Homo sapiens: one gene and its partner. The gene in region 1 interacts genetically with each later gene. Each region holds a gene or a part of one and is shown in the gene's direction. Other genes may lie near its edges.

Region 1 (5,261 bases):
AACATTTGTTTTTTTGTTGTTGGTTTTGTTTTTGTTTTTTTTTTGAAACAGTCTCTCTTTGTCACTCAGGCTGAAGTGCAGTGGCACCATCTAAGCTCACTGCAACCTCTGCCTCCCAGATTCAGTTGATTCTTGTACCTCAGCATCCCCAGCAGCTGGAATTACAGGCATGCATCACCACACCTAACTAATGTTTTGTATTTTCAGTAGAGACAGGGTTTCACACCATGTTGGCCAACCTAGTCTCGAACTCCCGGCCTCAAGTGATCCGCGTACCTTGGTCTTGCAAAGTGCTGGGATTACAGGCTTGAGCCATCACACCTGGCCACGTTTGATTTTTTTGTTTTAATACAAAGAATACAGTTATTATAGAATCAGAGAGTGGCAATGGCAGGACTATGTGTATTGGCCTAAAAATATGCCCATAGTAAACTTATGTAACGTGTACCATCTTGAAAAAATAATCCCGGTTGTTAATGGAGTTGAAGGTAGGTAACTCTTTCCTTATTAATTTTTTGCAAAGATACGAAGTTTCAGGAAAAGCTGATGACAGAAGTATGCATGTTATAGTCTGAGTTTTTTTAAGTGTGGCATATGCCCTAGAAAAAGTTCTGGAAGAAGTAAATACTAATCTCTGAACATGGGCTTCTGATGGGGGCAGTGGAATTCCAGGATACTTGTGTTGTGTGATAAAGGGTTTTTGATTATTTGACTTAATGCATATAGTTTGCATTAAGGGCATATATATTGAAATGTGAAAGATGGACATTTTTGTTTGTGTATATTTTCTTTACCTCTAAATATTTATATATATACATTTTTGAGATGGGGTCTGTTTCGCCCAGCCTGGAGTGCAGTGGTGTGATCTCGGCTCACTGCATCCTCCATGCCTCCCAAGCTCAAGCAATCCTCCCACTTCAGCCCCCCAAGTAGCTGGGACCACAGGCACACGCCACCATGCCTGGCTAATTTTTTTTTATTTTTTAGTAGAAACAGGGTTTCTGTATGTTGCCCAGACTAGTCTCGAACTCCTGAGCTCAAGATATCCACCCACCTCGGCCTCCCAAAATGCTGAAATTACAGGTGTGACCCACTGCGCCCAGCCTTTAAATATTTATCTTAAAAAATAGTATCAAGATGTTCCTTTAAATAATTCATCAAGTTTCCTTAAAATGACAAGAGCTGCCTCATGGAGCAATAATAGATACATTCGTATCTGCATCATATGGGGCAAATGTGGGCAGTAGGATTGCGGTTTTATTTTTAAACCATTTTCATTTGATTAGTCTCAAATACTTAAAAATCAGAAGATTTTGCATTTAAAAAGTCTGAATTTCTGGCTGCTTTAAAAAAAAAAGGACATGTCTGGCAGACTTGACCCCCTTTCTCCTACAGTGACACCTGTCTATAGCTGCACTCATGGCTGACTCTAGAAGAGCTGTGTTTTCTCTCCACTTCAGTCCTCACCATTCTCTATTGTTTTGGGTACTTAAAACAGTTTTACTTGGTATTAGCTGCTTGGCACTTGCCATTTAGCTTGGAACACCTATCCATATTGTTGACTTGAAAAAAAAGTTACTCATATCTTAGGTGAAAACATTGTTTTGTAGATAGTGTGCGTGAATACAGATATGTGTGGGGAGGAAGAGGAAAGGTTTATCTCAAGGTCATTTGTTGGATCCTGATTCATTTTTCTATTGATTTTTAATTTTTATGTAATGAGCATGGATTATGCATATACTTCTTATAAAGCTTGCAGAGTTACAGATAAAAGTTTATATGAATAAATGTTGAGCATTTCCTCTCTCAGTTTTGCTCATTTACTAAAGGTTGAAATTTGTCTGAAGGGATGGACATCTCCTTAGAAGAGCAGCAGGTCTTCCTCTCCTATGCCTGAGGCTTGAATGTACAGCCCTTGATGGAGGGTATGGCCAGGGTGGAGCCAGGTCACTACAGACATCTGTCCTTTCCGAGGGTGCTGTAAAAATATTTTCTCTGTGCACTATGTTGAAAGTACTACACTAGAGCATGTGCAGATAATCCAGGAAAAAGACCTTAGAATTTATGTATTTATATTTTAGGTTTTTTTTGAGACGGAGTCTCGCTCTGTCGCCCAGGCTGGAGTGCAGTGGCACGATCTCAGCTTACTGCAAGCTCCACCTCCCGGGGTCATGCCCCGGGTTCACGCCATTCTCCTGCCTCAGCCTCCCGAGTAGCTGGGACTACAGGCGCCTGCCACCACGCCCGGCTATTTTTTTGTATTTTTAGTAGAGACGGGTTTCACCGTGCTATCTAGGATGGTCTCGATCTCCTGACCTCGTGATCCGCCCGCCTCGGCCTCCCAAAGTGCTGGGATTACAGGATATTTTATTTTTTTAAGAATTATTTCTGTTTTTGTATTTAAGAGGTACATGATATGTAGTGTGGTATAATATGCATATTATTTAAAATCAATGTTCACAGTTTATGTGCATAAAAACGTTGTGCTACATGATCAAATTCGGCCACCATTAGACATGATTCATAGCTATTATCCATGGAGATACTCTGTTGCATGCCAACCAGACTCAGACTTTGTTAAACAATAACATATTAAATGCTATGATGGCCTCAATTTTTTTTTTTTTTTTTGAGACAGAGTCTTGCTCCATCGCCCAGGCTGGAGTGCAGTCGTGTGATCTTGGCTCACTGCAACCTCCGCCTTCCAGGTTCATGCGATTCTCCTGCCTCAGCCTCCTGAGTAGCTGGGATTACAGGTGCCTGCCACCACGCCTGGCTAATTTTTTTGTATTTTTAGTAGAGACAGGGTTTCGCCATGTTGGCTAGGCTGGTTTTGAACTCCTGACCTCAAGTGATCCACCCACCTCAGCCTCCCAAAGTGCCAGGATTACAGGCGTGAGCCACTGTGCCTGGCCTATAATGGCTTCAATAGCTTATTTTTCTATCAACATTGAAAGCACCCGGGCTCATAAAGGAATACCAACAAATCCACTTGGAGGCATTTTTCTGTATTCCAGAAATAACATTTTCTTCAAGCTTCTGTCTAGTTCAGAGCTTTATTTTGTGATTCATACTCAATTTTCAAAGGTATTATTAAAAATATTTTGTGGGGTTTGTGTGTGCAGTGAGTTTTTGTTTGGTTAAGGGAAGATGGTGCAAAGATACTTATTTCTCTTTTTTACTCTAGATGGCCCTCTACCTGACCCAAGTATGATCCGTGGCAGTGTGCCAAACCAGATGATGCCTCGAATAACTCCACAATCTGGTAAATAGTGAAAAAAATTTTTTTATTTTAAAAGAATCCCCGGTGTACTGCAAGATAATACTTGCTACCTGAACACCCGCTTTATGCCAACAGCAAGTGTCATGATTACCTGCCCATAGAGGAAGAGGGGGTGAAGAGCAGGTTGGCTGGCAGATCACAGGGCAGGTGACATTAAATGATCAAGTATCCATTAAAAAACAACTGCAGGCTGGGCATGGTGGCTCACGCTTGTAATCCCAGCACTTTGGGAGGCCGAGGCTGGTGTACCACCTGAGGTCAAAGTACGAGACCAGCCTGGCCAATGTGGTGAAACCCTGTCTCTACTAAAAATACAAAAAAATTAGCCGGTTGTAGTGGCACGGGCCTGTAATCCCATTTACTCTGGAGGCTGAGGCTGGAGAATCACTTGAACCCAGGAGGCGGAGTTTGCAGTGAGGCGAGATCGCGCCACTGGACCCCAGCCTGAGTGACAGCAAGACTTCGTCTCAAAAAAAAAAAAAAAAGCAGATTGTAAAATTTGTAAAATTCAGTTTGGAGATCCTGTTAGTTGATAATGTCTGTTTACTGCTACTGTGAATGAGACAGATTTATTTATACTTAGAAGGTTGAAAGCCAGTTTATTAGTCCTGATAGAATCAGGGCCAGGTGCGGTGGCTCACGCCTGTAATCCCAGCACTTTGGGAGGCTGAGGCGGGCAGATCACAAGGTCAGGAGATAGAGACCATCCTGGCTAACACAGTGAAACCCCCGTCTCTACTAAAAATACAAAAAATTAGCTGGGTGTGGTGGCGGACGCCTGTAGTCCCAGCTACTCAGGAGGCTGAGGCAGGAGAATGGTGTGAACCCAGGTGGCAGAGCTTGCAGTGAGCGGAGATTGCGCCACTGCACTCCAGCCTGGGCGACAGAGCAAGACTCCGTCTCAAAAAAAAAAAAAGATACAGAATCAGACATAAGAATTCTATCTTTTATTATTCAATTTCACAAAGGCATTCAGATCTAACATTTTGCTCATATTCACAGGTTTGAATCAATTTGGCCAGATGAGCATGGCCCAGCCCCCTATTGTACCCCGGCAAACCCCTCCTCTTCAGCACCATGGACAGTTGGCTCAACCTGGAGCTCTCAACCCGGTTAGTTTGACGTCTTTGGTAATCTCTTTGGCCTTTACCTGGTATTTTGAAAATCCTGTTTGTTCCTACTTTATAAATTCTCACAGTCATTTAAACAGACCATAACTCCTAGTTCTTCTGTAATTCTTCTGTATTTAACTCTACTAGAAAGCTGACCAAAAAACGAAAACAGCCAGTCCCTTGTCCCTGGAGTGTCAGTGTTTAGTGGCCTGCATGCGTTTTCACGGTCACTTCTCTTCCCTGATGTCTGTCTTCCCTCCTCCAGGCAGAGAACTGTCTTGCAAGGTTGATGGTGCGTTTTTGCCTGGTTCTTGAACTCGGAGAAGAGAGACTAGGCTTCTCCTGCTCCTTATGCGAACTCTTAACCAGTCCATCTCTCTACCTTGACCCTAACCCTCCTGCTGCCCTTTAGAGTTAGCTGGTGCCTCTGATTCTTGACCCTTTTGGGGGTTCCTGAGCATTACTACTTCTCACTAATCTGCCATTTTCAACAGGGAGTTCTGTCCTTCATTTTAACCTATAAGACAGATGGTCTTAGCTTATGAAGTTTTTGGCCTTTGGTACTCGAGATTTCTTTCTTTAAGGCCTGAATTTGTGTAGGGTAATTTTGGAAATGACATGTAACAGTGCTAGAGCATTTGTGGACCATGAATGCTACCAGATTCTGCTACAACTTGTAAGATTTTCTTGTTTTTACATATTATGGGTCTTAGAATTTGTGTTATTACATCACTGACATGACCTCATGAAATTGTGATTAACTCTCCTCACTTAACAGAGCATGCAAAGAAAATTACCTGCTATCCTTGTGCTAGGCATATTTGTGTACCAAGAGAATGTGTGTTCCATCCTCTTACTATTTCTTG
Region 2 (4,604 bases), on another chromosome or scaffold:
TCAAACATAGCAGGCATGGGCCAGCCTCAGGGCCTTTGCATTGGCTGTTCTTTGTGCCTTGAACACCACCCCCAGATCTCTGCATGGTTCCTTTCAGCACTCTGTTCAAATACCAACCCCCAAAGGATGTTTACCACACTGTGGTGTGTGGAATGCAGTATAAAAAGATACATGTATGAAAGATGTTTCTAAGAATGCCAGTTTATATATGAGTAAGGGTTTTCCTCCTTTTCAAAAGGATGTGTTCACAAGACTGAGGTACGTAATATGCTCTGTAAAGGCATAGGTATAAAAGCTGTTTCTAAGAGTGCTAGTTGTATATGTGAATAAGGACTGTGTTGTTGCATTGAAAGAATGTGTTCACAAAACTGTGGTGTGTAGCTGGGCACAGGGGTGTGCACTTATAGTCCCAGCTACTCGGGAGGCTGAGGTGGGAGGATAGCTTGAGCCCAGGAGTTCCAGGCCAGCCTGGGCAATATAGCGAGATCCCTTTTTCTGAAAAAAAAAAACCCAAAAAACAACCACTGTGGTGTGTGTAATACACTCTCTTAAAGGCACAGGCGTAAAAGATGTTTCTAAGAGTGATTTGATTTTGTTGTACCTGGGTAGTGTTATTTCATTAAAGGTTGATTGTCACACCATGGTACTTAGAATATACTATACAAAGGCACATGTATAAAAAAGAAGTTCCTAACAATGCTACTTGTAAAAACAAAAAAAGTCAACCCCTCCCTGACCATCTGAAGCTGCACACCCAGCAGGGCTCAAGCCAGGTCCCTGATTTGTCCCGTTGCCCTTTATCACTGTCTGACACACTGTGTGGGTTACTTGTTTGTTGTCTGTCTCTCCTCATTAGAATGTGAGTCCCATGAGGACTCAGTTTTTGTCTGCTCATTCACCGCTATGTCTCCAGCAACTGAAAATGTACCAGGTAAACAGCAGATGCTCAATAAGAATTTATCCCATGAATAAATGGGAAAAAGATAATTTGAGACACCAGTGTAGGGGTCACATGAGGAAGAAGAAGGGATATGAGAGCTAATTAGTTGGGACTGTTCCTGCAACCAACCTTTACTGAGCCCCTTGTGAGTACCAGGCACTCTTCTAGGTGCTGGAATATGGCAAGGAACGAAACAGGGCGAAATATTTGTGCTTGTGGAGCTGACATTTATTAAAAGTTGGGGAGGCTGGGCACGGTGGCTAACACCAGTAATCCTAGCACTTTGGGAGGCTGAGGTGGGTGGATTGCCTGAGCTCAGGAGTTCAAGACCAGCCTGGGCATCACGGTGAAACCCCATCTCTACTAAAATACAAAAAAATTAGCTGGGTGTGGCGGCGTGCGCCTGTAATCCCAGTTACTTGGGAGGCTGAGGCAGGAGAATTGCTTGAACCCAGGAGGCGGAGGTTGCAGTGAGCCAAGATTGCACCATGCACTCCAGCATGGGTGACAGAGCGAGACTCTGTCTCAAAAAAAAAAAAAAAAAAACCCAAGCTGGGGAGACAGACTATGTGAACAAAATAAATAAGTAAAATTAGCATAATAGACAAATGCTGAGAAGAAATAATGAAATAGGGCAGGTAGGAATCGAGTATTGGGGGTGGTTGAAATCTTAGGCATAGGGAAGGTGACTCTTGAATTAGGGCCTCACGGTAGAGACGGAGAGAGCCTTAATGTCTACGGGAAGAGCATACCAGGCAGAAGGAAGTGCCAGTTCAGAGGCCCTGAGGTGGGATGGTGCCTGCCATGTTCAAGGAACATCAAGGCGGCCAGTGTGGCTGGAGCAGAGTGCGGGGAAGGGTAGAAGGTGAGGTCACACAGGTGATGGGAGCCAGATAGTGCAGGTGATACATAGGATAGGATTGCAGGGGCAGGGGGAGAAGGATGACACACTAGCTAATAGCTAATATCTGTGGAGTATCTGCCACACATCAGAGGCACTTTTCTGTTCAAATACCAACCCCCAAAGGATGTTTACCACACGGTGGTGCCTGGAATGCACTACAAAAAGATACATGTGTCAAAGATATTTCTAAGAATGCCAGTTTATATATGAATAAGGATTTTCCTCCTTTTCAAAAGGATATGTTCACAAAACTGAGGTATGTAATATGCTCTATGGAGGCACAGGTATAAAAGCTGTTTCTAAGAGTGCTAGTTGTATATGTGAATAAGGACTGTGTTGTTGCATTGAAAGAATGTGTTCACAAAACTGTGGTGTATAGCTGGGCACAGAGGCTGAGGTGGGAGGATCACTTGAGCCCAGGAGTTCCAGGCCAGCCTGTGCAACATAGTGAGATCCCCGTCTCCGAAAAAAAACCCAAAAAATAACCACTGTGGTGTGCATAATACACTCTCCTAAAGGCACAGGCATAAAAGATGTTTCTAAGAGTGATTTGATTTTCTGGCACCTGGGTAGTGTTATTTCAGTAAATATTCATTGTTAAACACTATGGTGCTTGGAATATACTATACAAAGGCACATGTATAAAAAAGAAGTTCCTAACAATGCTACTTGTAAAAACAAAAAAAAAAGTCAACCCCTCAAGTCTTTTACAGAAGTATTTTACAGAATTGACACAGTTAATCCTCACAGAAGCCTTGGAGGGTAGGTGTACTTTTGAGAATATTTGACTTTGAGAGTAAAATATCCCCATTTTACAGATGAGGAAACAAGCAAAGAGAGGCTGAGTAACTTGCTCAGGGTAACCTTGAGCCAGAATAGCCAGAACAGGGGCAGAGGAACATAAGGCTGAAGACTCAGAAAGAAGAACAGATTTGCAAGGGCAGGCAGGTTATTTGGCACCTTTGATCACGCAGAGGAAGAATGAATTCTTCCTGGAATGCGATGATTGTGTAATTGAGTCCATGAAGTGAGGGAAGAGCTCTCCCTGCGGGGAGAGCAGCCCGTGCTTACCCTCAGAGGTTGGAACTGTCTCGGGAACGGTAGATAGTTCAGGGTGGCTGCCTCAGAGCCTTTGTACACGCCGTTCGCTCCGCCTGAAGGCCCTCCCCCACAGAGGGCAGCCTGGCTTGCTACCTCCCCTCCTTCAGGCCAGGTGTCACTTCCTTGGGGAAGAACTCCTTGTACACCCTGTGTAAAAACAGCATTCCTGTCACTCTCTAGGATCTTACCCTTCTCTGTTTCTCTTCATGGAGAACTGGTGGTGTAAGGCGATTGCTCACTAGAGCCAAACCACTTAGGTTTTGAATTCCGGCTCTGCCAACTTCCAGCTGTGTGACTTGGGGCAGGTTACTTCTCTGTACCTCCATTGCCTCATGTGGAAAATGGGGGAAATGATAATCCCCACCCTTTAACGGTGGTTTGAGGATTCAATGAGTTAAATGATTCAAAGAGTGTGCAGCCCACGGTAAGGATCGTATGCCTGGCTTGCATTTTTAAATTATTAAAATGTATTCATAGCATACCCGTAGATGTCTGACAGGCCTCTGAAACTGACCATCTCCAAAACTGGTGTGACCCCCCTCAAAACTTACTCTCCTGCAAGGCTCCCACCTCAGCTGACCACAATGCTGTCTTTGTGGGTGATTAGGCCACAAACCTAGACTCACCCTGGACCCTTCTCTCACCTCCCCCGGGCATGCTATCTGTCAGCAAGTCCTATTCTGTGTTCAGGCTTTCTCCAGACCCCAGCTACTTCTCGCCAGCCCCACTGCTACCACCATCATCTACCGCAGTGGCTTCTTCAGCCCCAACAGTCTGTTCTTCTCACAACCGCCAGGGGGATCCTGTTGAAATCTCAGTCACAGCCTGTCATCCCTCTGTTCACAACCCTCTTGTGGCTCCTGTCTCACTCAACATCCTGACAGCACCCGAAAAAGCCTGGCTCAGTCTGGCCCCCGTCACTCTGTTCTCCTCTCCCGCTGCCTCCCTCCTCTCCCCCGAACCCATGTCAGCCTCCTCTCCCCATGTCACCTGCCAGGCACTCTCCAGCCTTGGGCCCTTCACACCGGCTGCCGCTTCCACCTGGCTTGCTGCTCTCAGATACTCACGAGCTCAGTTCCTTCACCTCCTTTTGGTCTCTGCCCAGTTGTCCCCTCCTTGGCGACTACTCTCCCCTGACTCTCCATGTAAAAGTAACAGCTCTCCCCTGCTTGATTTTTTTCCCATAACCCTTACCACCATCTGACGCACTCTTGTACATGTTTGCCTTTTTTCTCATCTGCCTTTCCTGCTAAGATGTGAGCTCCTCTGGAGCAGGGATTGTTGTCTGTTGCGTTCTCGACTGTATCCGCAGCACCTGGCCCACAGTATGCACTCACCAAATGCTTGCTAAGTGAAGGAGATGGAAAGAAGTAAACATATCTAAGCAAGGCAGATTACTAGAACTCTTATGAGGGGTCAAGTGGGAGAAATAACAAAATACAAAGCCCTGTGTGCTGTTGAAGCTGGAAGCCCACCGTCACCTTTCACTCAGCTGATAGGTTCTGTTGCAGCTGAAAGAAGAACTGGTAAAATTGCCTGTCTTTGCCACCAGGAGTCACTCTGAACTCTTTGGACTTCTGAAACAAGCCTGCCTGCAAAACAAATTCAGTGAGGTCTCTGGTGACAGGACTCTCTAATCGGACACTTCATGGCTTTGTG

The links.
Region 2: of EP300 (region 1) and ELK1, changing one enhances a phenotype caused by changing the other (phenotypic enhancement), as found in Homo sapiens cells (one study listed by BioGRID).

What each region holds. Positions count from the first base shown.
Region 1 is NC_000022.11:41,143,552-41,148,812, forward strand, and holds part of EP300 (histone acetyltransferase p300), read left to right. Parts: intron 1-3,187; coding exon 3,188-3,265; intron 3,266-4,285; coding exon 4,286-4,395; intron 4,396-5,261. UniProt on the Homo sapiens protein: Functions as a histone acetyltransferase and regulates transcription via chromatin remodeling. Acetylates all four core histones in nucleosomes. Histone acetylation gives an epigenetic tag for transcriptional activation.
Region 2 is NC_000023.11:47,644,043-47,648,646, reverse strand, and holds part of ELK1 (ETS domain-containing protein Elk-1), read left to right. Parts: intron 1-4,604. UniProt on the Homo sapiens protein: Transcription factor that binds to purine-rich DNA sequences. Forms a ternary complex with SRF and the ETS and SRF motifs of the serum response element (SRE) on the promoter region of immediate early genes such as FOS and IER2.